7 linked regions of the Homo sapiens genome follow. The protein of the gene in region 4 purifies or fractionates together with the protein of the main gene of each other region. This does not show direct contact. Each region holds a gene or a part of one and is shown on either strand. Other genes may lie near its edges.

Region 1 (4,499 bases), on a different chromosome or scaffold from region 4:
CATATGTGCCAAACAGTATTCTACATAATCTGACATAGCCCAACAACCCTATGAAGTAGGTATTGTTACCAAACACATTTACAGACAAGGAAACCGAGGCACATAGACTAAGTATCTGATCACACAGGATACTGGGATCACAGAGCCAGCAAGTGGCTGAGCTAGATTCTAAACCCAGGCAGTCTAGTTCCCATGTTTCAGAAGCTGGGAAGGCCAGGGATGATCCCCACAAAACTTCTCAGTGGCAAACCTACTTGGTAGCATTTAGGGAAAGACAAATATTTTGCCTGTTTGAAAACCCCCTTTTCTCTGCCTGTGCCAGTACTCTGTCTGTGTGAACAATGAGAGATGTGTTTGAGGCTGGGGTGTGAGTGGGCTGGAAGCACTTAACACCTTCTCCACTCCCTGTACACACAGGCACTCAGCTCCTTGTCATCCTGGCCCTCTTTCCTGTGTTCTGGAAACCCTAGGCATGGGGCCGGGGAGGGCGGGTGATGGATAGGAAGTTCAGGTCTGAAACCATGTATCACAACATCGAAGGGTTTTTTTGTTTTTTTTGTTTTGTTTTGTTTTTTTGTTTTTTGCCAACTCCTATTTCTCTCCTTTCTTCTCAATCCTACTCTTCTCTATCCTAAATGCCACATTGTTATTGTTCTACTGGATAGGAGTAGCATTTTCAGAAATGGGGGATTTATTTTTATAGCACAGCTGGTCTGCCAAAGGTCACATAATTTGGCAATGTTCCCAGTGGTTAAAAATTAATTTCTCCTTATTAATACAACCAAGGTCCCAGAGGATCGGAGCTCAGCCTTATCTAAACTTGACAGCTTCCTAAACCTTTAGAAGATGCTTTCTCCTGGAGGGCCAGCCATGATACAAGGCCACTGTGTCCTGGAATCCTACTCCACTGAATCCTGTTAGGCAATGAAACCATTAAGCCTCTGACCATTTCTCATCAAGGCAGATAAAGCTTTGAAAAATACTGTAGCTCTCCAGGACAAACTTCTGCAGCATCTTCCAGAAATGGGTTAATTAAAAAACAAAAATCAGCAAACAGCCAAGTCCTTACCTGGAAGGAACAGTACAAAGACTAACTTCTGGTGATCAATATACTTATCTGCCACTCAAGGAAGGTATCTCAAAGATTATCCAGTTGCAAGTGATGGTCAGATAATAAAATACCTCAAATATGTTAATAACACTACAAGCCATTGCCCAGATGACACTTTTCAAGTCCTTTCTTGTCAGTTCAAGAAATTAAAAAGATATTCTTCTTTTGCTCTATCTTTTAAGAAAGGAAGATCTCAGCTCAAGTTCCTAAAGTCTTTCCAAACTGGACCTTTGGAGAATATATTTGGAAACCTCTTTACCTGGCTCTTGAATTCTGTCAACTCAGAATTGTCTTACACTCAGGTCATCCTGAGTCAGTTCATTTTCCTGATTGCTTTAGGGAAGACTTGAGTGAAATGAAAAACACCAGGGTCCCCAGAATCATCTGGTCCCTGGTGTCTCTCCTCACTGACCCCAGACCCCTCCCTCACTGTCATTTGTATTCGTGCCTCACTGCATATGAATTGGCATTTGGATTCCTAGCTTTTTCTATGCCTGGAAGATAGGAACTGGCCTTTCTGCTGCAGAACGTGGACTTGATACATTCAACAGCAGGGGATCAGAGCCATTTGGTAGACAGCAGGAGTCCTGTCTGGGTAGCCTGGGTTCCAGTCACTGCAGCCTTCCAATCTTTCATTTTGCCAGTTGAGTGCTCCGTAGCTTAATGTCTGAGGGCTCTATGGGATGACATAAAACTCCAAACCTGATGTGCACTGGCGCATTCACAATTCCACCAGGCACCGCTTGGACGAGTAGGGGCCTGCCCGGGGCCCTTTGGGGAGTGCTCCTCTTGCCACTGTCTTGCACTGTGTGCTCTGCTGGCAACTGGCCACAGCTTCCCTACCTCCAGGAGCTGATCACGGGGGAAAAATGTTTACTGGGTACCCATTTAATGTGGGCATGAGACCAATCCCTAGAGCCCAGAGCAGGCCGTCTGCGTAAAATCTAGGAGTTTACAGTTTACTTGCAAATTATTATGCTCGCCAATGGCCATCTCACATTTTGGGGAGACAGGCTAAAAGAAACACTTCAAACCCTTATCCGGCGCCTAGACCGTCATTGCTTCTCTTTCAGGATTTGTCTGAACCCAGACCTGTCTCCCACAGCCAATTTACACCTCTTATCTGATCATCCAGTCCAGACGGAAGGGTGAATTGACCGAGAATCTGCGCGTGTCCATGGCAATGGCGTTAAAACCCAAGCATAGATCAAAGCTCTCCAGACGAGGAGGGGAGGGGTAGATGGTTATGGGGTCTGGGTTCTTTTGGCCCCAAGCGATGTGTCCCGGAGGTGGGGACATTAGGCCTGGGAGTTGCCACCATTTGAAGAAACCCATTGTCAGGACTTGAATGATTTTCTGAGCAAAACCCAGTCCCCCCGCAGATCATGATTAACTCTAGCAAAGGGGACGTTCGTAGTGGGCGCTGATCGGGAATGGCTAGCGCCAGGGGGCTCTCCTCTCTGTCTGAAACCGAAAGAACAGGAAGTGGAGGGAGGGGAGCCGAGCAGGGAGCACACGCCAATAAACCTGAGCGTGGATCTCCTATCTTTTAGAAGAAATTCAGCCGGAGCCGCAGAAGCCGCAACGCATATGGGCAAGATCCCCTAAAACTTGGTCTGGAAAGCTGATTCCCGAAGGTTCCCCAACCCAGATGATTCCCAGAGGGGCGACAAGTCTATTCCAAATCCCTCCCCCACCTCCAAACACTAGGGCTACCGGCGCCCGCCACCCAGCCGCTGGACGCCTGCGACCCGGTGGGAAAGACCCCCGGCACAGCCAGCCCGAGTCGAAGGGCGGGGGCAGCCCTTCAATCAGAGCGCGCCTTGCCTCCATTAACTTGTGTTGATATTAAAAAGAAATCAATCAGTGAAAATGAAGCATCGGCCGTGAACATTTCTTTTTCTCACGTGGAAAAGCAAAGAGCGAGGCGGCTGGGGAGGGGAGGCGGGAACTCGCCGGCGGCTGCAGGCAGAGGCTTCTCCAGAGACCAGCGCTGCAGCCGAGACCTAACTTTCCGGCATAGGGCAGCGTTGAAGAAATGCCGCAGGCTTTTCCCTGGGGGTGTCCTTAGGAGGAGGAGGAGGAGGAGGGCACAAGCATGGAGTAGTTGGAGGCGGCCAACTTCGCGGAGGCTTCAGCCTCGGTTTTGCTTTCGCTGGGAATATTTTTGCTTAATAGAATGTTTATGGATCGCTGGGCTCTGTTTCTGCTGCGTAGCCCAAACAAATCGATGCGGCGTTAGAGAAGGCGCTGGGGGGCGGGGAAGGGGAGGGAGGGCTAGGAGGAGAGCTGAGGGGCTATCACGTCCCCACCACGTGGATGGCCGCACGCCGCGTGCTCTTCACCTGTTCCTGCGCACCGGCGGGCGCTGGGCGCGCGGCGCTTCTAGAGGCTGTGCAAGTTGCGCGCATTCCTGGGGCTCAAGCTGGTTCCTTCCCGCCTCTCTCCGCCCTCCTCTCCGAAATCCCACCCCAGTTTCCTCTCACCTAGTTGGGCCAGCGCTTGGATTCCCAAGCCAGCCGGCCTCGGCCTCCCGCCACTCAAAGCCGTCTCTCTAGGGGTCGCGGCGAGCCTGCCGCGCAGAGCGGAGCGCAGGGGACTGGCGGGGGCGCCCGGGGCAGGGAGGGAGGCAGGCTAGCGGCTGCACTGCGGTCTGGCGAGGCGGCGCAGTGAGGAGAGGGGCAGCCTGGTGCGCGTCGCCCATGCGGCCTCCCAGCCACGCGCCAGCCCAAGGTGCCGCGCGCCGCGACCGCCGTGTTATTTGCTCAGTTGCTCCCCCGCGCGCACCTTCTGCCCCATCTTGCTCCTTCCCAGAATTGGTTCTCGTCGCCGGCGGCGGCGGCTGAACCAGGCCCCCTTCCCGGCCGGCGCACACCGGGTGAGTCAGAGGTATGTGGCTTGGCCTCGCCCTGGCCACCCGCTGCCGGCTCCCAGGGTGCCAGTGCTTTGCTCCGCCTGAAAGCCTGAGCAGCTCACGGCTTGAGATCGCATTTTGGGGAGCTGGAGGTCCCTGGCAGGTCCCAGCTTCGAATCCCACCCTGAGATCCCACCCCGGGTCCGAGGTTGCCCCGAACTCCGCGCCTCTGGGCTTCTCTGGAAGTGACGCAGCACTGCTGGGGATTGGGATGGGAGGGGGTTCTGCAGAGAGCGCGGCAGGCAGGTGGCAGAGCGGGAGTGGGTCCAAGCGGGTGTCGCGCACACACGTACACACACTCCAAGCAGCGCTCGGGGACAGATGTGCGAACATCTGGGGTAGGAGATGGCCCCTGAGTCTTCACGACCCCTCCCGCTCCGCACAGCACACGGAACCTGAAGTTGCATGTGTGTGCGCGCCAGTGTGAGTGCCAGTGTGTGCGCGCTCGCGCGCTGGGGCCTACTGGAGTCCGTG
Region 2 (4,499 bases), on a different chromosome or scaffold from region 4:
CATAAAAACTGAGGGACATGGCCTGGGTGTGGTGGCTCACGCCTGTAATCCCAGCACTTTGGGAGGCCGAGGCAGGAGCGGGTAGAGGGTGCTTGAGCTCAGGAGTTTGAGACCAGCCTGAACAACATGATGAAACCTTGTCTCTACAGAAAAATACAAAAATTAGCCAAGCATGGTGGCGGGTGCCTGTAGTCCCAGCTACTCAGAAGGCTGAGGCAAGAGAATCACTTAAGCCCGGGAGGGGGAGGTTGCAGTGAGCTGAGATAGTGTCACTGCACTCCAGCCTGGGCAACAGAGTGAGACCCTGTCTCAAACAAACAAACAAACAACAACAACAACAACAAAAACCCTGAGGGACTTCATGGGGCTTCATGATCTACTGCTACAGAACAGAGCACAACTCCTGTGCATACATGTGGAAGGCCATCACCCAGAGGAAACAAAGGAGACCAAATGGGGTGCCCCGTTAGGAGCCATAGACGCAGAGGTGTCGTGAGTGACACTGAGCCTGCCCTTCAGGGCTGGGGGCTCCCTGAACCTTTGAACTGTCCTTCATCACCACCTACTGCTCTTGTTATTTATTTATTTGGCAAATGTTTGCCGACCATCTACTACATGCCAGGCTCTTTGACAAGTGCGGGAGACACAGCCATGATAGGGACAACCCAGAGCTGTTCTGGAGCTACACAATTAACTCCTTTTCTGAGAGCCTCAGGAGCTTTGCATTCTTCATCTTTAATCCTCACACCCGCCACCAGGCAGGCATGAGTATTCCTGAGGAGAAAACAAGGCACAGAGATGTTAAGTAGTTTGTCCAAGGCCACACAGCTGGCTCTCCATCCTGTGCTCTTCCCTACTGGTACCACACTGTTCTGAAAATAAGCAGAACCCCGTTATAGAGCTAGACGTTTCCGAACTACCTGATGGCCGTAAGGCGTATTTAGGATGATCTGGAGAAGAACTAAGAAACCTCTCTGTCTTGGAGGCTGATCAGGGCAGCCTCTGGCTTCAGCTCATTGTCCCAACCAGAGGCCCTGAGTGGAGGTTCTAGGTGAGATATGGAAGGGATGAGTGTCAAGCCATTTTGGGGTGACATTTTACTGATGAATGCAGGGTGACATTCTCTCAATGCAGGCAGCAGTACTACTTACCCAGTGCCAGAGAACTCTGCACCTCGGGTGGTTTTCCTAGAAATGAAGTTGGGCTGCTATAGCTAAAACCATGGGTATTTATTGACCACCAAGTATGTCAAAGCATAAGGATAGGGCTCCCTCTTTGAATGCTGGACACAGCCAGTCACCACCCTGTGACTCTACACCAGGGGAGCTGGAGAGGTTCTTAGAAGAGAGGTTTCCCTTCCCTAGGAAGGCTTCACAGATGTGGGGCATCAGCAGGGCCAGTGGTGTGCCTTGAGGCATGCCTGAGACCTGGCCAGGGTACAGTGAAGGGGACAGTCTTGCTGGAGCAGACCCTGGATAGGGGCTGGGGAATGTTCATAGTGGAGCCGGGTTATTAGGTTAAAACATATGAAATTTCTGGTTTTATGGCTGAAAAAAGGTTGACTACAGACATTTCCTATGATTCAACCTAATACCTGCCCTTGGACATCAGGCTAAGCTGTTTAAACTTGAACCTGAAGTATGGAGAAGCCGCTGATGGTTTCTGAGCTAGAGAACAACACAGTGAACTGGGTTTTAGAACCACTTATCTAGTAAAAAGGGTATGAAATTTTAGATGGGGGAACTTGAGGAAGAAAGCCAAATATGGAAGTCCCTTGCTGCCTTTAAAGTGATCAAGATCAGGAAATTGGTGGCTATAAGAATGGGAAGAAAGGCTAGATGTGAACATTTTTGTGTAAGAGCCAGCTGGACTTGGGGATGGATAGATGGATGGATAAATGGATGGATGGATGCATGGATGGACAGATGGACGGACAGACGGACGGATGGATGGACAGATGGATGGACGGATGGACGGACGGACGGACGGATGGACGGACGGATGGATGGATGGATGGATGGATAGGATCATGGCCATTGTCTTCCATTTTCCTAATACCAGACACAAACAAGAGAGATGGCAAGGTAGGTGGGAAGCTTCCCCTCAGGGAATAGGGAGGAGTTTTTCCTCAGTGGAGAGATAACATACCTGCTAGGACATTAACTGTGACCAGGGGCTCACTATTCTCACATGGGGCAAATCCAGTGGGTGTAGCCTTCCCTCCTCTGGAGGAGAGGAGCTGTTCCCAGGGGTATTCTCCAAGTGGGCCTGGGCTGCCTTGTTCTGGCTCTCCAGAGGGCAGATGAGGCTGTGGCAGCTTAGTGTGCTGGGAGGAATTCTGAGCCCCCTCAGCAGGGCTCCCAGCCCACCCCGTAACCACCCCCACTGCCTATTCTTCACAGGATCTGCAGTGAGGACATCGAGTGCAGTGGGCTGACCATCCCCAAGGCTGTGCAGTACCTGAGCTCCCAGGATGAGAAGTACCAGGCCATTGGGGCCTATTACATCCAGCATACCTGCTTCCAGGATGAATCTGCCAAGCAACAGGTAGCTGGTTGCATACCTTCCTCCTTGGTGGGCCTGCGGAGGGCCTGGGTGTGTCAGCCTGACTCCGCTTTTAGAGATGGGTGAGGGCATCTGCAGTTGGCTTCTCTTGCCTTGCCCAGCTGCCAGGAGCCTTCGCATTGCCCAAGGTTAGAGCTGGGCATCTTAACTTTCTGCAGAGCAAAGCCCTCTGTTTAAGTGGACATTAGGCAGGTACAATTCCTCCATTGGTCATGGAAGAGACTTCAATGCCAGCCACGGGTTCAACAGAAACCCCTTTTCTCAAATCCCACTAAAGAACATGACTGCTCCTCACCTCTCAACTCCTGCCCTCCTACCTGCTTCCTCTCTCCCACTCCCCTTCTCTCTCCAGGCATCTTACGGTAGAAAACAGGCCTGTTGATGCCTCCAAAGCTTTGCTGGCAGGAAGGACACTACAGGGTTCTTCAGTTCAGCCCAAGGATGTAGTGTCAAAAATGAGTTTCCCAGAGTCCCGGATAAGTTTGTATGCATTTCTATGTCTGTGTTCTGCTTTAGGGTTTTGAAATGTATTTACATCCACTCTCTTATCAGGTCCTCACCATCATTCTCCAGAGGAAGAAAGCAGGACTCAGGAAAGAGGAGGGACCCTAGCTGAGGTTCTCCCAGCTAGGATATGGGAGCTAGGATATGGGAGCTAGGATCTGAATCCAGGTCTTTTGCCTCCGGGTCTGGGTCAGTTATCATGACCTCACACTGCTTATTTATTTTGGTTGACTTGAATATTTCTGAACTGATAGATTTTTTGGTCTGAAAAAAAAAATCACCTTTGAGTAGAGAATAACTAGATCAGCCTCATCTCCCTTGACCAGGCAGCGTGGCAACTCTTTCCTGGCAGGTCTATCAGCTGGGAGGCATCTGCAAGCTGGTGGACCTCCTCCGCAGCCCCAACCAGAACGTCCAGCAGGCCGCGGCAGGGGCCCTGCGCAACCTGGTGTTCAGGAGCACCACCAACAAGCTGGAGACCCGGAGGCAGAATGGGATCCGCGAGGCAGTCAGCCTCCTGAGGAGAACCGGGAACGCCGAGATCCAGAAGCAGCTGACTGGTAGGACAACACGGCCACCGAGAGCCAGCCTGAGGGCTGTGCAAGGCCACTGGCTATGGCCCCAGGCTGGGGTGCAAGCCTGTCTCTCCAGGCTGGGCCAAGACACAGCTGTGCAGATTTGGCCCAGGGCTAATATCCTGAGAGTTTAGTGACACTGGCCTTGGCCCAATTAGGGGTGTCCAGAGGGTGACCTTGGGTGGTGTGCACACACAAGGGGTCACCATCTTTTTGAGGTTAAAGAGCAAAAGGAGGAAGGCTGATGTCCAGGCAAGATCCATATTCCACAAGCCCTGGGATTCCCAGGTGATGGAAAGAGAGTAAGACTGAGGGGAGAAGGGGTTAACAGGCCTTAAGCACCTACCCTGTGTTCAAGAAATATGGTAGGCACTCAAGGTGGGGGGCACAAGAGGAAGAGGTCACCGTGAAGACCTAGAATTGGGCTGGGAAGATCAGACCATGTACAGAGTAATGACTGATAAGTATTTCTGGCATAACTTTCAGATGGAAAAGAGACAGCGTTAGAAGACTCCAAGTGCTAAAATTTATACTAAAAACCACTGATCAATCAAACGTTTTTTGATCACTTTCCACATGCATAATTTTGGCCTTGACAGAGAACTCTGAGATGTTCCCTGCCTGCAAAGAACCTTCAGTCTGGTTGGGGCATTGAGAAATAGCCTCATGACACAGACAGACAATAGGTTCTACAGACCAGGGCTACCTGGAAAGCGACATTTCAGTAGGGCCCATTTGCCAGAGTCCAGGCTGGGGCTGTTACCTCGGTCCCTAGGGCATCCTGAGCCTGGCACAAATTGGGTTGATGGTCTCTGACCCCCAGGGCTGCTCTGGAACCTGTCTTCCACTGACGAG
Region 3 (4,499 bases), on a different chromosome or scaffold from region 4:
GATATACATGGATACTATGTAACATTTACACATTTCTGAGAAACATAGAAAAGTCGGAACATATAAAAGATATTATTAATAGCTTCCGTGGGGTGACAGGATTATAAGTAGTTTTGATGGCTTTTTTTTTTAATTTTTTCTTTTGTTATTGTTGTTTTTTTTAAATTTAGAGACCAGATCTCACTCTGTTGCCCAGGCTGGAGTGCAGTGGTGCATTATAGCTTACTGTAACCTCAAACTCCTGGGCTCAAGCAATCTTCCCACCTCAGCCTCCCAAATAGCTAGGACTACAGGCACACACCATCACACCTGGATAATAATAATAATAGTAATTATTATTATTATTTTGAGACAGAGTCTCACCCTTTTGCTGGGCTGGAGCGCAGTGGCGCGATCTCGCCTCACTGCAACCTCTGCCTCCCGGGTTCAAGCAATTCTCCTGCCTCAGCCTCCCAAGTAGCTGGGACTATAGGCACGTGCCACCATGTCCAGCTAATTTTTGTATTTTTAGTAGAGACGGAGTTTCACCGTGTTGGCCAGGAAGGTCTCGATCTCTTGACCTCGTGATCCACCTGCCTCGGCCTCCCAAAGTGCTGGGATTACAGGCATAAGTCACCACGCCCTGCCTATTATTATTATTATTATTATTTTTAGAAACAGTGCCTCTCTATGTTGTCCAGGCTGGTCTCAAACTCCTGGCCTCGAGTCATCCTCCTGTCTCAGTCTCCCAAAGTGCAGACATTATAAGAGTGAGCCACTATGCCCGGCCTATTTTCTGCATTTTCTAACATACACATGCACTATCTTAAAGCACAAAAAAAGCTATTAACAAAGAAATAATTAAAAGTAATTAGCTATAAGTTGTCAGTTTAAAAAAATCTGGACTGCTATATTCAACAAAGTTGTTTACATTCTAGATTTCAAGGCCCCTCAGAAGCACCTCCCTGTGTAAATGAGGGTTCTTGCCTCCAGAAGGTGGCCCCACAAATGAGGAGTGAAAAGTAACAGCCGAATGGCCCCACTGTTGTACTAATCTTGTTTGTTTAAAGAGAAACTACAGACACTCTCTCTATTAAAGAAAAAAAGAATGAGGAGAGACCGAGAGAATTAGAATGTGCTATATACATTACAAGATCAAAACCAGTTTAGGCCCAAGTCTTCTTGTAATTTCATCTTTTTCCTCCCTGAGGGGGTTGGGAAGCCCTCTCTTACCACAGGTTAAGAGGCGAGAGGTCTGGTGGAATTTCACATCCACAGTGCCCTTAGGAAAAGCTGGGTGTTTTTGGCAGATTGAAGCATTCTTTTTCCAGGCTGTGCTTTCACTACTGGGTACAGATAATGTGGCTTAAAGAGCTAATCGGGAGCTGGAACAGACAGAAATTCAAGAGCAGAGAGGCATCAGGACCTAGAACTTGGCCTAGACTCAGAGAGAGCTGATTCAAAGCTCAGAGCCACCAGGGACCTGCTGGGCGACCCTGGATCCATCACCAAGCCTCAGTTTCCATGTTGGAAACAAAGGGAGAACGACGTCTGGGCTCAGAGTTAGGAAAGCACTCTGTTAGCTATAAAGCAAGCTACATGGCAGAGTCGCCCTCAGCATGTGACCCCGCTTCAAGCCTGCCATCCAGTCTGGGATGTCAGACCCAGGGTTCTACTGGCAGGTTAGAGAAGAGGAGTCAGGTGGGAGACTTGGAAGATTTGGTACAACACATGGAAGATTTGGTACAACACAGAAGTTTCTGCGATTTCCTCAGACTAACCCTTAATTAACTACAAACCACGGTCTACGCCTCCTTTCCATCAATTATCTTATTTCACCTTCATAGCCAGCCTTGGAAGTGGACTTAGGTGGGTCTGTATGGCAGACAAGGTCCTTGAGGCTTAGATAACTAGAGTCTCTAGGGTAGGCCTAAGTCACACAGCAAGGCAGGTCCAGGGCCAGGATTTGAACCCAAGCCTCAGTCCTGAAGGATGCCCAAGGAACATAGATGCTGACACGCCACACTTTTCTTCCTTCCAGGCAAACATGAAGAGAAACAGCAAGAAGGTGGCATTGTTTCTAAGAACTTCACAAAGAAAATCCAGTAAGTAACCTGGAGTCATGGAGCTCAGGGTGGGAGTGGAGGAGGGGGCACACCTGGGACCCATGATCTGGGGTCTCTCCCTCTTGGGCATCTCTCTTTTAAGACACCTCCTTGGGGCAGGGAATTGAACCCTCACACCTAACGAGGAGAAAATATCCCAGCAGACCTGTAATAGGGTCCCAGAAGGGGGAGCACATAGATTGCATCATCTCATCTGCTCGGTGCCCTGTGAGGTGGGTATTAAAAACCCCATTTTATTTATTTATTATTTATTTATTTATCTTGAGACCGAGTCTCACTCTGTCACCCAGTCTGGAGTGCAGCGGTGTGATCCCAGCTCACTGCAACCTCCACCTCCTGGGTTCAAGCGGTCCGTGTGCCTCAGCCTCCTGAGTAGTTGGGATTACAGGCATGTGCCACCATGTCCGGCTAATTTTTTGTATTTGTTTAGTAGAGATGGGGTTTCGCCATGTTGCCCACACTGGTCTTGAACTCCTGGGCTCAAGCGATCCACCCACCTCAGCCTCTCAAAGTGCTGGGATTAGAGGCTTGAGCCACTGCACCCGGGGAACAACTCCCTTTTATAGACTAAGCATCTGAGGGTAAGCAAGACAATGACTTGTCCACAATCACACAGCCCCTACCCATGGGGCATAGCTGAGGGAGGACCCCTGTCACCATCCAGAAAGACCATCCCCTGATTCCCCAAATGCCCCAGCAGAATATCTTCCAGGCTGCTTGCTCAGCCTCTGCCCTGCCAGGAAAATGAGCACCTTCTCTAGGGCATCCACAAAAATGAAGTTGGAAAGTGTCCTGAGAACACTGCATACTACCCAGAGAGGTTTGGAGGCTGAGACACTGGGACACAGGAAGAGCTATTTTGCTGAGGGGAGTAGAAGGGATTCATGTTTAACAGGGAAAGGGAGCCTGGGGGAACCGTGAGAGCAGCCAAGGACAATCAGGCTGAGGCCATGAACCAAAGCCACCACGAGCCCCTAGCTGGCAGTACCTATAGGGAGCAGAGTTGCACAGTGTGGTCACGATGGCTGCACTTAAACAACTGCCAGGTGCTTCATACATACCTTCTCCCTAATCAGCAATCAGCGTCACTCCACTATGTGCGTTTCTGGCCCCTAAACTCTCTCTCTCTCTCTCTCTCTTTTTTTTTTTTTTTTTGAGATGGAGTCTCACTCTGTTGCCCAGGCTGGAGTGCAGTGGCACGATGTCAGCTCACTGCAACCTCTGCCTCCTGGGTTCAAGCAATTCTCCGGCCTCAATCTCCCAAGTAGCTGGGATTACAGGTGCATGCCACCATGCCTGGCTAATTTTTGTATTTTTAGTAGAGACGGGGTTTCACCATGTTTGGCCAGCCTGGTCTTGATCTCCTGACTTCAAGTGATCTGCCCGCCTCTGCCTCCCAAAGTGCTGGGATTACAGGTGTGAGCCACTGCGCCTGGCCCCTAAACTCTTTTCCAAGCCATCGTTGCATTTAGCCTTTGCAGCAAAAGTGTGCATCGGAGAGGAGACATGACCCTCCTTGCAATACAGGGAAACTAAGTCTCCCACAGGTGAAAGGACATACCCAAGGTCTTTACAGCTAGAATTTAGAAGGGCCCAGAATAGATCCCTGACCTCTGAGTTCCATGCTCAGTCCTTGGGCAAGGAATGCTGTTTCCTCATCTGTGAAAGGGATGCTGATTCCAGCCTTGCAGAGTTCCTGGCTGAAAGTGACATAAGGTCATGGCCCAGCGTAGGTCCTCATAAGTGGGAGTTCATTATTACTATTGTTATTGTTGACTCTTAACTTTTCCATCAGCCTTTGCAAAGAAATTCTGTGTGTGGAGAGATCACACTAGCTGAATTCTGAGGCTTCTTCCAGCTTGGGATTCTACATTCCTGTCTCTTCCCCCACATGTCCGTCCCTGGCCCTCCCACAGCCTCTGCAGTTCTTGGAAGCCTGTGGACACTTCCTGATAAGGCAAACGCCAAACCATTTGTTCTTCGTGTTTGCTGGCTTGCCTGGCATCTCCGTGCCCCACACCTCTCCCTGGTTTAGCAAGCAGATTAAACATTGCTGAGGGAGAGGAAGGAAGGCAGGGGGTGGGGGGAAGCTGATGTCAAGGCTCAAATGAGGTCTCAGGGTGGAGTCACAAGCAGGGCATAGCTGTAAAAGGGACTGTGTAAGAAAGAAGTGAATTAATCATCTTAAAAGGGGTGTGTGTGTGTGTGTGTGTGTGTGTGTGTGTGTGTGTGTATTTCACATGCTCCAAGGCCTTAGGGGAGATAGCTTGCTGGAAGTAACCTGATGAGAAATGCCTGAAATTGCTCCAGGCTGGTGCTCAGCTGCTGAGCTGGGCTAGTTGTTAAAATATTCAGTGGTCCCCAACCTTTTTGGCACCAGGGACCAGTTTCGTA
Region 4 (3,407 bases):
AGACAGGAATGGAAGACAGCACCACGCAGAAAACATTAGATAAACCAATATTAGAAAATAAAATGGACCACATTAGCCATTGGTGAGCTGGTCTAAACTGTTCGGCACTTTCAAACAACACGGAAAATAACACAAAGTCACGATCTATGAAAGAGGAGTTCCAGGGGTTTTCTGGTGGCCGGGTACAAGGAAGCACCCATCTTAAGCAGCTGGATGCATGTGCACAGGCTTAGGCATGGCACCGCCCTCCAGCAGAGCTGCCTGAACTGAGCAAGTGTGAGTCCACCCATTATATTGCCCACAGCTGAACACAGCCCTAGGGCAGTCAACGCCAAATCTTCTTTATCTCGAAAACTGGCCTGCTCTTTTTAACCACGGGCATAAATCAGACAAGAAGAACTGGGGTGGGAAAGGTTTCAGGTTGCCAGTAGAGGCTGGACATTTTGAACCCTGGACAAAGTGACTGGAATCTTTGTTTCCCCTGGCCCTGGAGCTTTTGTAACCGGCTGGGTGTGGGCTTTGATGTCTGCGATTCGTTCTTTAAACTTCTGCTGGAGGAATTTTTCTTCTTTGGAGTAGCTCTTTACAAACACCGACATCAGCAGGCACCCTGCCATGGACGTGCCTCCAATGCAGAAGAGAACAGCTCCTGCCAGCTTGTACATGTCCAGAGCACTGTTAAACTGGACAGCATGTGTGTCGACCACCACAAAATCGGCTTCGCCAAATGCTTCGATTTTGGGGGGCACAAGAAAGCCCACTGCCAGAACAGTCAATCCGAGGATCACAAAAACTGTACCTGAGATGAGTCCAACCTACAGGTAGATAATGACAGAAGCAAGATAGAGTGAGGAAGGTGCTTCGGCTCGCCCCTGAGCCCTCAAGGGCAGCACTTGTCTTGTTTCTTGAGAGAAATGAATATTCCCAGTTACCCCAAATTTGCAGGAAACACTTACTTAATTTTCTGTTGAAAAAGGTGAAAGATGATCTTTCTAATTTTAATGCCAACCAAAAACTCCAGCACTCAGCCTTGAGATATATGTATATATCATATATATATATTATATATCTAAAGATATACATATATTGTATATCTAAAGATATATATATAATCTTTATATTATCTAAAGATATATATAATCTTTATATTATCTAAAGATATATTATATATAGCTAAAGATCTATATAATATATATGTCCAAAGATATATATATTATATATTATATGTCTAAAGATATGTATATTATATATATATCTAAAGATATATATAAAATATATAATATATATTATATACCTAAAGATATATATTATATATAATATATATCATATATCTAAAAGTAGATATGTAATATGTAAATATATATATAAATATCTTTTTTTTTTAAATTTGTACAATGCTTTGCAGTTGACAAAACCTTCTTTTGCTTACATTGTCTCATTTGGTCTTGAGGAAAAGAAGAGTAGCCCTGATATCCAGGAGCTGGCCTTACTCTGTCCCCTAGGCCTCGACATTGTTAGAAGCTGGCTAGGAGCTCACAGCAAGGCCATGCTGTTCTGCCAGGCACCATCTCACAGAACATTAACACATGCTCATTCTGTGACCATGATGAAGTGAGACAAAACAGTAGCCCTTCATAACTTTGTCTAAGCACAGACAAAAACAAGGTCCTTGTAAAAACCACAAAATACGACATGACCCCCGCTCCTGGCTAATATGAATGACACCTACTTCTTTCTCATGATGGCTTTAGTCTCACTCTAGTCTGTCCTCTCTATACATAAGATATATTAAGATATCCAATCATAGAATTGTCCCTAACAATCCAGAGTGAACTCTTGCTTCATTAGACCCTCCCCAAAATCACCCAACCAGAGCCCACATCCTATAATATTATACATCCTTTTCACACTCTCATATTGCAATGCCCCACAGTCCCCTATGGTGACATTCTTTCTTACTGTAATGAGTAATACATCCAACTTGTTCAACATATAGGTGTGTTCCTGGTGGTTTTGGCTGGAGGACATGGACAGTCTTTGTAACTACTCACCTCTTTTCAAAGTAAGCAGAGAAGGAACCTTAATGGCCAGTTAAGGTAAAGAAATGTAGCGTCAGAGAGGGTAAGTCATGGACCAAAGATGGACAGCTAGCAAGCTGCAGAGGCAGGGTTAGAACCCACAGAGCTGATCCCCAGGCCAGTGTTCTTTCTCCTCTCACATGTAGCTATTTGGGGTATACTTGTGCAGGTGCTAGGAAGTGTTCAGAATAGCAGATGGAGGTTAAACTGCATTAGCTCAAGTTCTAATGAAATGTAACATACTAAAGATGGAAATGATGTACCATTTGGTGGTCAATGCCCATAGGTTTGAAATAAATGGACGCATGCTTCGATTCTACCACCACCACCTAGCACTTGAATCATAGAAGGAAAGTTACTTAAAAGCTCTTGTCATTAATTTCCCCATCTATAAAATGACAAATGCTCATAATACCTACCTCATAGAGGACTTGTGAGGACTAAATGAGACTATCCATAAAAGCACTTAGCCTTGTATCTGGCAAAGTTATACATTGTATCTGGCAAAATTATAAATTGTAATAAGTAGCTATTCTTCTTATTTGGAAAGACACCCCTTGAAAAATTGTTATGCTACATTGGTAACAGTATTACGATTGCTCAGCACTTGGAATAAGGAATAGCTAACACCATTACTTTTTAAAGTAATTTTTCCTTTCCTTCTGTTCTTAATTGCTTTTAGTTAGAATAACAAGGTTAGGAAAATAACCAGATACATAACATAAATTAATCTTTAATATTTAAATTTTTGAGATAATATACTAATAAAGGAGGCTTGGCTAATAGAAGGAAAACGTATCCACAAATCTATCACCCTAGCAAAAATGGGAAAAGTATAACTGGTATTATTGAACATCTATTATGACCTGCACTAATGCTAGATGTGTTTTTTGTTTAATCTTCACAAGCATCTTATGAGAAGTAGGTATTTTTATTCCAATTTCACCTATAAGAAACTGAGGATTATAAGGTTAAAGAAGCATACTTTAGCCGGGCATGGTGGCTCATGCCTGTAATCTTAGCACTTTGGGAGGCCAAGGTGGGTGGATCATCTGAGGTCAGGAGTTTGAGACTGAGAGGTGAAGCCGGCTGGGCTTCTGGGTCGGGTGGGGACTTGGAGAACTTTTCTGTCTAGCTAAAGGATTGTAAACACACCAATCAGTGCTCTGTGTCTAGCTAAAGGTTTGTAAACTCACCAATCAGCACTCTGTGGCTAGCTAAAGGTTTGTAAACTCACCAATCAGCACTCTGTAAAAAACACACCAATCAGCGCTCTGTGTCTAGCTAAGGGTTTGTAAATGCACCAATCCACACTCTGTAAAAATGGAC
Region 5 (4,499 bases), on a different chromosome or scaffold from region 4:
TGGAATCATGCTTGAACCCGGGAGGTGGAGGTTGCAGTGGGCTGAGATGGCGCCACTGCACTCCAGCCTGGGTGACACAGTGAAACCCCATCTCAAAAAAAAAAAGGAATCAGCAGGAGCAGGTGGAAGGGTTCAGATCTTTTGAAGACTCTTGAACAACAAGGCTAAAAGTGTTTTACAAAAGGGTTGGGGTCAGGAGCAGTGGCTCACGCCTGTAATCCCAGCATTTTGGGAGGCCGAGGTGGGTGGATCACTTGAGGTCAGGAGTTCGAGACCAGCCTGGCCAACATGGCGAAACCCCTTTCTACTAAAAATACAAAAATTAGCCAGGCGTGGTGGCCGGTGCCTGTAATCCCAGCTACTTGAGAGGCTGAGGCAGGAGAATTGCTTGAACCTGGGAGGCAGAAGCCGCAGTGAGCCGAGATCACCGCATTGCACTCCAGCCTGGGCAACAAGAGGAAAACTCCATCTCAAAAACAAAAACAAAAACAAAAACAAAAGGGTTGGGCCAGTTTATACTTCCTGCCGTGTATGACATATGCAAGATGTCTAGCTGACCTGGGACTGGTTTTTGTTGCTTTTAGGAACAAAATATGAAGGAATGGCATACCCCCACGCTCAGGAGGGCTGCCCTGCAGATAAGTTTTGTCAAGCCTCTATTTCCAACCCTCATCTCCCTACTGTCCTCCACTGTGCACATAATGTCATTCTGGATGTTGTAAAAACTGGAAATGGTCTTGAAGAAGCTGTTTAGTAAATGGTAGCACATGCATTCCACAGAACACTACGTAGCCATCCAAAATGGTGCCGGTGAAACTCAAAAGATAGGAAAATATTAAGAAAGCAAAACAAGGCAGTTTGAACATGAAAATTGCAATGAACATTCCTGTAAATCACATTGGGGTAGAAACAAAGAAAAATATAATTGCAACGAATGCAAAAGTGCATACGCACTCCAGAGGTTTCGGCCACACTCCCCACTTTCAGGCGTTTACAGTTCCCTCTGCCGGGAAGCCTTTTCTATCCAGATCTTTGTGTGGCAGACCTAGTTTTAATCCTTCAGATATTGGCTTATGGGTGCTTTCCAATATCAGTGACCAATTCTCTGATTATCTGGATACCAACTGGGTGTTCAACAATTCAGTTCAGTTCTGACACCAGCTCCCAGACTTACTTAGCATCAGCTGCCACAGATTAAGGGCCCAGTTCCACGACTGCCCCACTTTAGATGCCAGCTGCAATGGGGTGCGCAGGCTATCCACACTTCTTCCCAGCCAACTTCAAATCTGGAGGTTCCCACAACCCCCACTCTGGTTTGATAATTCACTAGAACAGCTCACAAGACACTAGGGAAAACACTTTACTAACTGCTACCTGTTTATTATAAATAATACAACTCAAGCTTGGACAACATGCCAAAACCCTGTCTCTACAAAAAACACAAAAATTAGCCGGGCATGATGGTGTGTGTCTGTAGTCTCAGCTTCTTGAGGGGCTGAGGTGAGAGGATTGCTTGAGCCCAGGAGATTGAGGCTGCAGTGAGCCATGATCACACCACTGCACTCCAGTCTCAACAAGAAAGAAAGCCCAAGAAAAAGTCCCCACGAAGTCCCTCCAACTGCATTCAAGCCGGAAGACGAAGTGAGAGGCTGCTTCCTGGCAGAAGGGCCACTGAGATGTGGCCCCAGCTGGATCAGTGCTTAGAGACCCTCTGGTCCAGCACGCATCCCCACAGCCCTTTATTTTTTATTTTTATTTTTTGAGATGGAGTCTCGCTCTGTCGCTCGGGCTACAGTGCAACGGCGTGATCTCAGCTCACTGCGACCTCTGCCTCCCAGGGTCAAGCGATTCTCCTGCCTCAGCCTCCCAAGTAGCTGGGATTACAGGTGTGTGCCACTACGCCCGGATAATTTTTGTATTTTTAGTAGAGACGGGGTTTCACCGTTTTGGTCAGGCTGGTCTTGAACTCCTGACCTCGTGATCTGCCTGCCTTGGCCTCCCAAAGTGCTGGGATTACAGGCAGCCAGCTCACATCCCCCTTTTTATAATGGGAAAACCATCAACCAGAGTGGAGAAGTGACACATCTAAGGGCATACAGCCAGATGGTGGTATAGCTGAGAAAGACAGAATTCGGAATTCCCCTTGGGGTTTCTAACCTGAAAATATCCTTTCAGATTGGCTGGTGTTTTATAGTCCCCTTTCAAGACCTAAGGAAGAGAAAAAGAAATATCACTATTATGAAAATGGCCAAAAAATAAAATTTAGTCATTCCCAACACATCCAGTCATCCACCCATCCACCTCGCCACCCACCCATCCCTCCATCCAACAAACATTGCTTAAGCTCCTCTTCTTCTAGGCATTATTCTAAGCATTGTGTCTGGTTGACATGATGTTAACCAGATAATGGAAATTCCTGTTCCCCTGGAGCTACCATTCTAGAGGGGGCACCAGATAACATACAAGAAAAATAAACACAGATAAACAAGGACATAGCAAACCATGGGAACTGTTGTGAAAAAAGTACAGTAAAGAGGTGGGATTAGGAGTAACCAGGGGGCTTCTTTTGAGTGGGTGGTCAAGAGGGGACTCTTGGGCCAGGCGCAGTGACTCATGCCTGTAATCTCAGCACTTCTGGAGGCCAAGGCAGGAGGATCACTTGAGTCCAGCAGTTTGAGATCAGCCTGGGAAACACACTGAAACCCCATTTCTAAAAAATTAAAAATTAGCTGGGCATGGTGGCATGCACTTATCGTCCCAGCTGCTCTGGAGCTACTCCAGCCTCAGCTGGAGGATTGGTTGAGCCCGGGAGGTTGAGGCTGCAGTGAAGTATGATCACATCACTCCACTCTAGCCTGAGTGACAGAGCGAGACCCTGTCTCTAAGAAAGTGAATAAATAAAAATAAAAAGGGCCTCTTGAAATAGATAACCTTTGAGCTGAGACCCAAACGACAAGGAAAAATAGGTAGGCTAAGCTCAGAAGAAAAAGCACTCCAGGCAGAGGCAACAGAGCAAAGGCCCTGAAGTTAGAACCACAACATTTCAGGCCTTTCCGCTAGTAGTCACATTTTAAAATAAAATGAAACAAGGGAGATTAATTCTAACAATATCTTTTATTTAACCTGATATAGCTAATTTTTTTTTTTTTCTATTGAGACATGGTCTCACTCCCATAGCCCAAGCTGGAGTGCAGTGGTGCGATCACGGCTCACTGCAGCCTCCACTTCCCAGCCTCAGGTGATTCTCCCACCTCAGCCTTCTGAGTAGCTGGGACTATAGGCACGTGCCACCATGCCTGGCTAATATTCAATATTTTTAGTAGAGATGAGGTTTCACCATGTTACCCAGGCTGGTCTCAAACTCCTAGGCTAAGCAGTCTGCCTGCCTTGGCCTCCAAAAGTGCTAGGATTATAGACATGAGCCATCATGTCCAGCCTATGTAAAATATTAACATTTCAATATGTAATTTATATAAAAGTGACTAATAAGAAACGTTACATACTTTTTTGTCCTAAGCCTTCAAAATCTAGTGTGTATTTTACACCTAACAGGACCTCTCACTTTGGACTAGCCTCCTGTTACAGAATCAGGGGCCACACATGGCTAGTGGCTACCGTATGGGACACTGCAGGCAGAGACGATTTCATCAGCATAGATGTCCTTTTAGCCACTGTGTTTACTGAGCCCCAGGATCCATTATTGGAACACACAGGGTCCACAGCACTCACAGAAGCACACAGGCATGCATGCAAACTCACAGGGCTTAGTGAGAGGACTTTTCTTTGCAGTAACAGCCAAGCTATGGCAAAAACTAAACCAGGGATCTAGCACTTGCCAAGACTTGTTGACCGCCCCAGGGAAGAAATCTCTTTGGATGAAAATGAGAGACAGCTTCCATTTTAAATAAACAAACACAAAAAGCTCCAAAGAGTTGATGTTAACCACCAGTGCTCATGAAAATTATTTGTGTTTTATAAAATACATAAAGTCAGGCTTTACTCCAGGAACGTCCGACCCATAGCCTGGGGCAAGCCAGGGGCAGCGAGCCACCTTTTAAGGAGACCCCAGAGGAGCCACTGCTGGGCCCTTGGCTGAGAACAGTGAAGTAAGCAACATCCAGCCCACTACTGCAGTGTCCCCAGCCGGCCCTCGCCTCTGCTTCTGAGAAGCACCTGGGGCTGGATTGTGAGATCACTACCATCTTTTTAATCCAGTTAATTAATTTTTTATTTTGATAATACATGTACAACCCACAGGCAGATAAAAGTATGTAAAACACATAAGTAGGGTTTAAAGATTACTATTATTAAAGAATAATAAAATAAAAATTAATAATATTTATAATAAAAATAACAAACCACATCTGGGTTGCAGCCATTCACCTGTCAATGTCGGCTGGTATGTACGTTGAATCTCTGAGTATTTCCATAAATAGATGTCTGCAAAATCAACTAATGTCAAGAGGAAGAGGAACTCACGAGACCCACAGACAAAGCTT
Region 6 (4,499 bases), on a different chromosome or scaffold from region 4:
GAATATGCGTAGTATATACAGTCAGTCAATCCTGTCTACCAAATACTATAAGCAATTAAGCATGATGAGTAAGGAGGGCTTCCAAGTTTGAATCCTAGCTTTACCACTTACTACCCATGGCACCTTGGGCATGCTGTGTTCTTCAATTCCTCATCTGTAAAATGACAATAACAATAGCACCTACTCCTTAAGTGAGAACAAAATGAGACAACACATGTAAAGCACTAAGACCAGTGCCTGGCATATAACAGCCTAATATATATTATCCTAATGTTATTACTACTATCCTATTGGGCTATGCCCACCTGGCCAAGCCTGGATCCCCAGATTCTGGGCCTACAAATCCAATTAATTCATAAGGCAGCCTCAGAGAGTAATATCGATGTCTTCTGCAACCCTAAAATGCTCCAGACCTCTGACAGAGCATACTATATATACCCTATTCTGATGGCCAGTGGTCCTCTTGCCTGCAGGCCTTGCTTTCTCACCTGATTTCATCTACATCAAAAAGCTTCTTTTGGCCAAGCACAGTGACTGCACCTGTAATCCCAGCACTGTGGGAGGCTGAGGCAGAAGTATTGCTTGAGCCCAGGAGTTCGAAACCAGCCTGGGAAACATAGTGAGACCCAATCTCTACAAAAAATAAATTAAAAATTAGCCAGGCGGGGTGCTGCATGCCTGTAGTCCCAGCTACTTGGTAGGCTGAAGTAGGAAGATCACTTGAGCCCAGGAGGTTGAGGCTACAGTGAGCTGTGATGGAGCCACTGCACTCCAGTCTGGGTGACAGAGCAAGACCATAATTCAAAAACAAAACAAAACAAAACAAAACAAAAAAACTTCTCTCGTAGGAAGTCTTGAGAGTAGACATTAGGAGGTCAGGCCTCCACATATCAGCAGTTACTGGATTCCACACTTCCCTTACTTCTAACAACCAAGCTCAGTTCAAGTCAAGAAACAGAGGGTAGCTCTTCCTCTTCCCTTCCTGAAAAACTCAATCCTAAAGCCATTAGGTGCAGCAGAAGAGGGCAGATATCTACAACGGGTGGAGTAGGGTGAGCCAGAGAGGTCTGGGGGACACTGTCAGAGCCCAGGCAGGGTGAGGAAGACATCCTTGCAGAAGTGGGAAGGTGTGGTGCAGCATGTCAGAGCCGAGGGGGATGTGGAGAGCATCCATGTCGGCTGGCAGTCTGATGTGGGGTGACACACGCAGGGTAAAAGAGGCACTCATGAAGGGTAAAGGGCAGTGGCAGTAATGAGGATTAGCTACCTACAGAGGAACTGATCAAAGAAGTGCATATATTAAGCATAATGGGACCCAGGTTTCTCACTGTTAAGAGAAAGGAGTTAAAATATGGAAAGGGAGAAAATCTGTGGTGTTGGATTGGAATTGGCAGGAAGAATGTGAACTCATGGTTTCTGATTAGATGTGTATCAGATAGATAGATGGATACACACACACACACAAATATACACACATATGCATATATATTTTCTAGCTCTATTTAAGGAAGAGCCAGGGAGCAGTAACAATGGCAATGAGCACACCTAGCACTCCATTGCCTTCTTGTTTTTTTTTTGAAGACAGGGTCTTGCTCTGTTGCCCAGGCTGCAGTGCAGCGGCACAATCATAGCTCACTGCAGCCTCGAACTCCCACGCTCAAGCAATCTTCCCACTTCAGCCTCCCAAGTAGCTTGGACCACAGGCATGTGCCACCACATCCAGCTAATATATATATATATATATATATATATATATATATATATATATATATTTTTTTTTTTTTTTTTTTTTTTTTTTTTTTGTAGAGATAAGAGTCTCACTACGTTGCCCAGGCTGGTCTTAAATTCCTAGGCTCAAATGTTCTTCCCACCTTGGCATCCCAAAGTGCTGGGATTACAGGCATGGGCCACAGCACCCAGCCCCAGTTGCCTTCTAAATACCATTCCCCACTAAAAGAAACAGAGGTCCTTAGAGAAATGGCTGATTCCAGGGATGCAGCAAGAGAAATACAAGATGAGCGCATAACATCTTGTATCAGAAAGCAAGGAAACACCCAAATAATGATGGGAACATACCAAAAGGATACAGAAGCCACCCACTGGCCAAGAAACAATGATAGTAATGGATTATAATGCACTGAATAGAAAACCATGAGTCCATAAAGATATAAATCAATAAAATTAAACTTTGATGTGAGATATTTACATAGTTTCAAAGTATCACCCCACAAAATACTTATTAATTACAACTAGTAGTAATTTTATGATGGAGAAGCCTGGCAGACATCACCTTAATCAAGTGATCAAAGTGAACATTATCAATAATGGGATAAATCAAAATCACACGACGAGAAGAACAAAGCATCATTTCTGTTATATTCCTGAAGCTACACAACCTAAATCTAATCATGAGAAAATGTCACACAAACCCTAATTGAGAGACAATCTAAACAATAACCAGCCTGTAATCTTCAAAAGTATCAAGGTCATGAATGCCAAGGAACGTTTACTGAGGAAAGTCTAAAGGAGACTAGAGACTTGATAACCAAATGCAACCCACGATTCTGAACTGGATCACTTTGCTGCAAAGAACATTCCTAGGACAACTGGCAAAACTTTAATGGGGTCCAAGGTTTATATAGAGGTTTTATATCAATGTTAATTTCCTGATTTTGATGGTTGTATTTTGACTAGGTAGGAAAATGTCCTTGTTTATAGGAAATGCACACCAAGCATTCAGGGTGATGGGGCATTAGGTCGGCAACTTAACCCTCAAATGGTTCAGGGAAAAAATTCTTTCTACTGTACTTACAACTTTTATGTAAATTTGGGCTGTTTCAAACGTTTTTTTAAAATTGTTTTTTAAAATCAGCTGGGTGGGGTGGCTCACATCTGTAATCCCAGCACTCTGGGAGGCCAAGGCAGGCAGATCGCTTGAGGTCAGGAGTTCAAGACCAGCCTGGGCAACATGGCAAAACCCCATCTCTACTAAAAATACAAAAATTAGCCAGGCATGGTAGCACACCCCTGTAATCCAGTGACTCAGGGGGCTGAGGCAGGAGAATCGCTTGAACCTAGGAGGCAGGGTTTGCAGTGAACTGAGATCACATCACTACACTCCAGCCTGGGTGACAGAGACTCCATCTCAATAAATAAATAAATAAATAAATAAATAAATAAATAAATAAATAAAATTGTTTTTTAAAATCCATGTGCAATGTGGTTACAATTTTAAAATTAAAAATATCACACAGACAGTATTTGAAGAGACAGATCTCCCTGTAATGCCCACAGAAGGTAGGCTGCATGTTCTCTCTGGTAGAGAGGCTCAAAGCATCTCTCAGCCCAAACAGTATCTCTATCCAGCCGAGTTTCCATCAGAAGAGCCCCTACTCAATGCCCACTTCACTGGCACTCCTGCTACCATACAGCCTTCTCAGGAAACACACCTGCTCCCTGCAGCAGCATCCCACTTGCCCTTGCACCCTCCGGTGTCTTAGGGATTTCTCTTTTCTATTGATGTCTTTATGTTTTAGTCACAAATTTGCAGGCTATAAGTCTATAGCTTATAATATCAACTGGGACTTTGAGTATCTAAATGAGGGCCAGAACTCAAAAGAAAGTTTATGATTCTGCCTATTTCTGCAAACTATCTTTCATCAGAGACTAAGATTTATACACATTTATTCTCAGACATCCTTTTCCGTCTCCTAGCAAATTAAAGGTATTAAGTAGCCCATGGCAAGGAGGAAAATGAATGATTCTCTCCTCAATATGAAGGGCCCAGGTCCCCAGTGGGGACAGGGGAGGGGTAAATGGGACTGCCACGGGGCCAGCCCGATTTGGAGAAGCAGGCCTGCGCCAGAGCCCCTGGAGGATGGTCTCTGTGCAGAGTATTTACACAACAGACACCAATGGCTCCTCTGCAGCCATTACTGTCTATCAGGTAAATAACACATGTGCCAAAACACACATTTAATGAGGGAAATAATATGCCTTTATAAAAAGACTCAATCTGTATTTACCTGAGAGACCAAAGAAGCACCAAATCACCAGATTAGAGGAACCACAGAGGAGTCGTTCTGGTGTCTTGGGTAAATAGACATTTTATAGCCTCCATTACTGGAGGGGTGAGCAGAGGGGGTCAACCTTTAACATCCACACACACAGGCCAAGGGAGTCCTCAGGATGGGAAAACAAGAGGAGGCCACTGTGAAACAGGTGGTCTACTCCCACTTCCACCTCCCCAGCCACATGTACTTGGGATCTCTGGGATGGTGTATGTTTATACCACCCCTGGATTCAATTCATTCCATTAAAAGCCAGACTAGGAGGCAGGGATACATCCAAGTAACTCCAAGTTACCTGCAACAGGTTCTGAGTCCAGCTGACTGAAAGCACCTAGGAATACAACAATCATAGCTTCCTCAGTTCTCAGTCCTGGTGTAAGTCCCCAACCCAATCTGACCTGCAGTATCACAAGTGCTCAGGCACCTGAG
Region 7 (4,499 bases), on a different chromosome or scaffold from region 4:
AACCAGTCTTTTTTAGTAATAAAACTGGATAGTATATTTTAATCTTACTTTAATCTATAAAAACAAAAATAACTTAAATATACATCATTACAAGGCTCAGATTTGTAGACAACTTTAAAATATTTTTTAATGTTAACAATGTCTTCAAAATTTTACCAGTAGTGCTGTGCACACAGTAGGTGGTCATTAAATGCTGACTGACATACAGAAGTGTTTCTAGTTAACAGCAATCCATATTCATTCATTCATTCCCTATTTTATAATAAATATATCATAGCAGTGAAAAAATGAGAGGATAACTTTCTTACAATATTTAACATTTTCATACAGAGTTGAAATGTTTACATGGAATAATTTTCCCTACAGAAAGACCTGTACACCCTTTAAATTCAAAGAAACACGGATTTAAAAACACAGTATACTCTTTTCATGTTATTAATTCAAATGGCAAGTATGTATTCATATACTAATACAGGGACTGCAAAAATTGAAATGATTCAATGTTTTTTTATTTTGAGAAAGTTTTATAATAAAAATGGCTCCACACCTAAAATAATGATTTTCCCCTCATTTTTAACTTAAGTGTAACTACTCAGTGTCTTTTGTTTGGCCAAAATGACAAAATATCTATTAAAAGGCAATAAAATCATGTAAGCCAATAAGGGATGTTCTAGGAGAAATATATCCTACTACTGTTGCACCAAAATCTTCTATCACTTAACATATGGATCAAAATTTTAACCTTATAAGGTAAAACAGCCATTTTCAAAGCAGCCTTCCATCATAACGATGGGTAAGACACGGTATTCCTTTACTGAGCCTCCTGGGGGGAAATTCTCTTTGCTGAGATACTATACTAGCATGGGGAATTTATATTCCAAAAACACTACACTGGAAAAGAAACACAACATTTTACTGATGTATTAACTGAGGCACATTAGTGACTTTCCAAGTATCATATGCACAAAAGGCATTTTGGGAATAAGCTTCATCATCAATTAACATTTTTTCTGATATTCAGTAATTTTACTGTTCTGAAAATACACCAGTATTTAAAACAGCTCATGTCAACTCATGAAGAAACTTGGGTAATATTTTATACTCCAATAAACAATGTAAGTTTTTATGAATGTCTACTTTAAGGGATTTAACTAATGCATATGAAAGACCAAAGAATAAGAGGGCTACAATGTATGATAGGGCAGTGAGTTCTATTTTTTAAGTATATACAATAAAAAGAAAGTTTAATGCTTCAGGCCCAAATATTAAGTGTTTATCAAGATTCTGAGTTATCAATGCAATGCTAACACATGCAGAAACCGAGGACCAGAGCACAGGTGAATAAGATTATTATCAAATGGGGCATCTGCATGACTTTGTTCTAAGGCTTAAGGTTCATTTCAGGGTCAAGACAGGGCCATCTAGATTCTATGGCCTTGCAAGTAGCACCCACAATGCTGGGAACCCCCACCACTGGGATATTCAGGACTACAAATTCAGAGAGTTGAAAGCTCTGGAATTTTGGGATCAAAAACCTGTAATCCACTCACAAGAATTCAGTTATTATATGGAATTAAATAATATCTGGAATTAAAATGTTTAGGTGGCTAATGACTATATTATTTGACCACATAATTTGTTGTCTAATCTTGTACTTAGTTTCTAATGTGATTCTTATCTGATAGAAAATGAGAAGTTCTTTTCCTCTTCTCAACCCTTCTCTCAACTTACTGCAGAAGTTTAAAGCTTTTGTTCTGGAAAACTAAAATATCTAATGTTCTTAGGGAGAGAAGAACCTATAGCTAAAGGATATAATATCTGAAGTGCCAGTTTCTCACAAATCATTTTAGTGATTATTTAAATCTAGTGATTTTAGTGATTATTTAAAATCACTATCCTAGCTTGCATTAAGCATAGGCTGAAACAACACTTGCCTTGATTAGGCACTTAAACTTGACAATTAACTGAAAATAATTAAGCACATAAGATGACTCCATTTTCTAATGGACATGAGCCCTTCCTAAGGAAATTAAGCTGGTGCTAAGTAAAATGAATCCTATTTCAACACTAGTTTCCCATTCATCGTTGTTATTCAGATGTTTCTTATGATTGCCAACTAATTTTCACTTTCTGTACAAGCAGCAAATTAGTAGTTTTAAGGATTTTGTAAAGCAGTTATTACTACAGATCCTTAAGTATACTTTTTTTCCCATTTTTATAAAGCATTACTCATATTAAAAAGGAAAAAGGGAAAACTAATGGGAATCTTAGAAATAGTGGGGTATACAATTCCCCATTATATATTGCTTAACAACTGAATTCACCAGGTGGCCATACCTAATTCACAAATGTGAAACATAGTCAGGACAAGGCTTGCTATGTCTGTACTGCATGACATACACTGTTGACTGATGCCACCAATATAACATCACTACTGCAAGGATATGCCATATTTGGTGGCTTGATCCGAGGTAGTTTAGTTGTCCTGGAAAGAAGGTAGAAAGAAAATGATAATGATTTCAATATGTTGACATTAAAGGAAAAATATATTTCTTGGAAGTATAGCTTAGCAGAAAAATTTTCATAGTCTCAGAGTGCCTAGAGACTAACTGGAAGCTCCAAACGTTTTTAGAAATGGATCAATTCATATTTGGGTCTAATTTTAAGGTTTTATTTATTAAGTACACAGGTAAACTTTAGAAATGCTATTCCAAGTGTGTTTTCAAAATCTAACTTAATTTCAGGAATTTGACCTTATGCCTCCCACATCTCAACTCACATTTGATGGAATGAACAACAACAAAAAATTATTGAGAGAGGCAAAAGAAACCAGATGTTAAAAATCATGGTGTGATTTAGGTATAAATCCGCGAGAAGGAGATATACTGCTGGGTTTAGATATAAACCTATTAGAAGCACTTTTTATTTCAAGCAGGTGTGCAAAGAAAAAGTGCTGACCTGAATTCTGTGCTCTCTAACTAATGGAATAATCTGCAGGATGTAATTAGTAATGGATTAATTAACTAAGGTTGTTTAGTTCATATACAACTTAAGAGAACAATTTAATCTCTTTGTGGTCAAATGTTAAATTCTGAGAAGATTAAACAATTAACATACGGAAAACTTCTTGATCTCTCTCAGTAAATAAAATACAGAGCTATAATAATTTCAATGTAAATAACATACTCATGGTGCTTCTATGGTCATATAATGTAAATATTCTCTAACCTCTCTTTTTTCTTACCAATCAGTACAGTACATAGATTTTAAAGTGTATATCAATAAGATTCTTAGCCTTTTTTGTACCATGGACGCCTCTGGCAGTCTAGTGAAGCCTACAGACCCATTTTTTTAAAAAACAAAACACAGAGGATTACAACAAATATTGATTATCTAATACAACTATCAGAGATCCACTCAATTCTATCCATGGACACCTTGGGGACCCTTGGACCCATCAAATGCCACTGTGTTGTGTATACATTTTTAAACATTCAACCTGAGCTGAATGAAAGCTTTTAGTTTAAAATTTATTTTATTTCCCAGTGGCCAGGTCATACATGAGGACTTGCCAGAGATAGTTTCTAAGGCATTTATATATGAACATTTGAGACTATCACTTTTCACTGGAAAGACTTAATTTTTTAGTTTCCATATCTCCACTGCTCTCATGTACCCAAACTCAATATGCTCTGCTACATAGGGCACATTTTATGTCAAGTGTGTCTTGGGGAAGGTTAAGTTACAATAAGTTTGATTGTTTATATATGTCCTATATTAAACAATTGGTAACTCCTGATCTGAATATTTTAAGGCCTAAAACCCACTATGGTCATAATCACATAGAGAATTTTCATGGTTTAGTGTTCTACTTGTCTTGCTATAAAGAAAATACAGAATTTTAAAAAGAATTATTAATAAAGTGATACAAAAATATATTTTACCAGAATTGTTTTCTGTAATTCTGGCCCTGCCTGGAAGATGGGTGGTCTTCAATTCAGTGGCATGTCCTAGATCTGTTCCCAAATCCTCATGTTTACAACGCAGGTTTTCCCTTGTATTTCCATTCTTATTTAAAGCTCAGTGGTGAAAAACCAAGTACACAAAGGAATGCCTGAGGATCTGTGGGATGGATTGTTTAGGCCAGGGTTTCTCACCCTTTCTTCTTTCCCAACACACGTGACGAGTGGTACAATCCCTTCTCTGATTCACCGTGGAAGTGATTCTTAACCCAGGAAGAAGAGGGGATAAATTTGCAGTTTAGATTTAAACTGCTCCCTGACTCATAGCTCTCCAAACTGAAAAAAAACATCAGTTTTATGTACTCTAAATGTTATTTCTGACCCATGCCAAAACTTACCTGGATTTGCATCACTTTGTCTCTTACTAAACCACATATTTCACTTATAAGACCAGGGCTGGGGGACATAGTAATAATTGCTGTCATTTATTCAGTCCCTACTAATTGCTAGAAACTTGGTTACATGATATGTGCATTT

The links.
Region 1: the proteins of NRSN1 (region 4) and NRP2 purify together in Homo sapiens (affinity purification with mass spectrometry; one large-scale study listed by BioGRID and IntAct). This does not show direct contact.
Region 2: the proteins of NRSN1 (region 4) and PKP1 purify together in Homo sapiens (affinity purification with mass spectrometry; one large-scale study listed by BioGRID and IntAct). This does not show direct contact.
Region 3: the proteins of NRSN1 (region 4) and HSPB8 purify together in Homo sapiens (affinity purification with mass spectrometry; one large-scale study listed by BioGRID and IntAct). This does not show direct contact.
Region 5: the proteins of NRSN1 (region 4) and TPST2 purify together in Homo sapiens (affinity purification with mass spectrometry; one large-scale study listed by BioGRID and IntAct). This does not show direct contact.
Region 6: the proteins of NRSN1 (region 4) and ERI3 purify together in Homo sapiens (affinity purification with mass spectrometry; one large-scale study listed by BioGRID and IntAct). This does not show direct contact.
Region 7: the proteins of NRSN1 (region 4) and PAQR3 purify together in Homo sapiens (affinity purification with mass spectrometry; one large-scale study listed by BioGRID and IntAct). This does not show direct contact.

The regions. Positions count from the first base shown.
Region 1 is NC_000002.12:205,684,921-205,689,419, reverse strand, and holds part of NRP2 (neuropilin-2 isoform 2 precursor), read right to left. Parts: intron 1-4,499.
Region 2 is NC_000001.11:201,314,151-201,318,649, forward strand, and holds part of PKP1 (plakophilin-1), read left to right. Parts: intron 1-2,402; coding exon 2,403-2,547; intron 2,548-3,421; coding exon 3,422-3,629; intron 3,630-4,467; coding exon 4,468-4,499. UniProt on the Homo sapiens protein: A component of desmosome cell-cell junctions which are required for positive regulation of cellular adhesion.
Region 3 is NC_000012.12:119,185,005-119,189,503, forward strand, and holds part of HSPB8 (heat shock protein beta-8), read left to right. Parts: intron 1-2,020; coding exon 2,021-2,084; intron 2,085-4,499. UniProt on the Homo sapiens protein: Involved in the chaperone-assisted selective autophagy (CASA), a crucial process for protein quality control, particularly in mechanical strained cells and tissues such as muscle. Displays temperature-dependent chaperone activity.
Region 4 is NC_000006.12:24,142,956-24,146,362, reverse strand, and holds part of NRSN1 (neurensin-1), read right to left. Parts: intron 816-3,407; coding exon 417-815; 3' UTR 1-416. UniProt on the Homo sapiens protein: May play an important role in neural organelle transport, and in transduction of nerve signals or in nerve growth. May play a role in neurite extension. May play a role in memory consolidation.
Region 5 is NC_000022.11:26,530,538-26,535,036, forward strand, and holds part of TPST2 (protein-tyrosine sulfotransferase 2), read right to left. Parts: intron 2,209-4,499; coding exon 2,158-2,208; intron 1-2,157. UniProt on the Homo sapiens protein: Catalyzes the O-sulfation of tyrosine residues within acidic motifs of polypeptides, using 3'-phosphoadenylyl sulfate (PAPS) as cosubstrate.
Region 6 is NC_000001.11:44,341,087-44,345,585, forward strand, and holds part of ERI3 (ERI1 exoribonuclease 3), read right to left. Parts: intron 1-4,499.
Region 7 is NC_000004.12:78,918,197-78,922,695, forward strand, and holds part of PAQR3 (progestin and adipoQ receptor family member 3), read right to left. Parts: intron 4,299-4,499; exon of another isoform or gene 3,945-4,298; intron 2,486-3,944; coding exon 2,343-2,485; 3' UTR 1-2,342. UniProt on the Homo sapiens protein: Golgi-scaffold protein which modulates its interactors acitivies by anchoring them to the Golgi apparatus. Functions as a spatial regulator of RAF1 kinase by sequestrating it to the Golgi apparatus.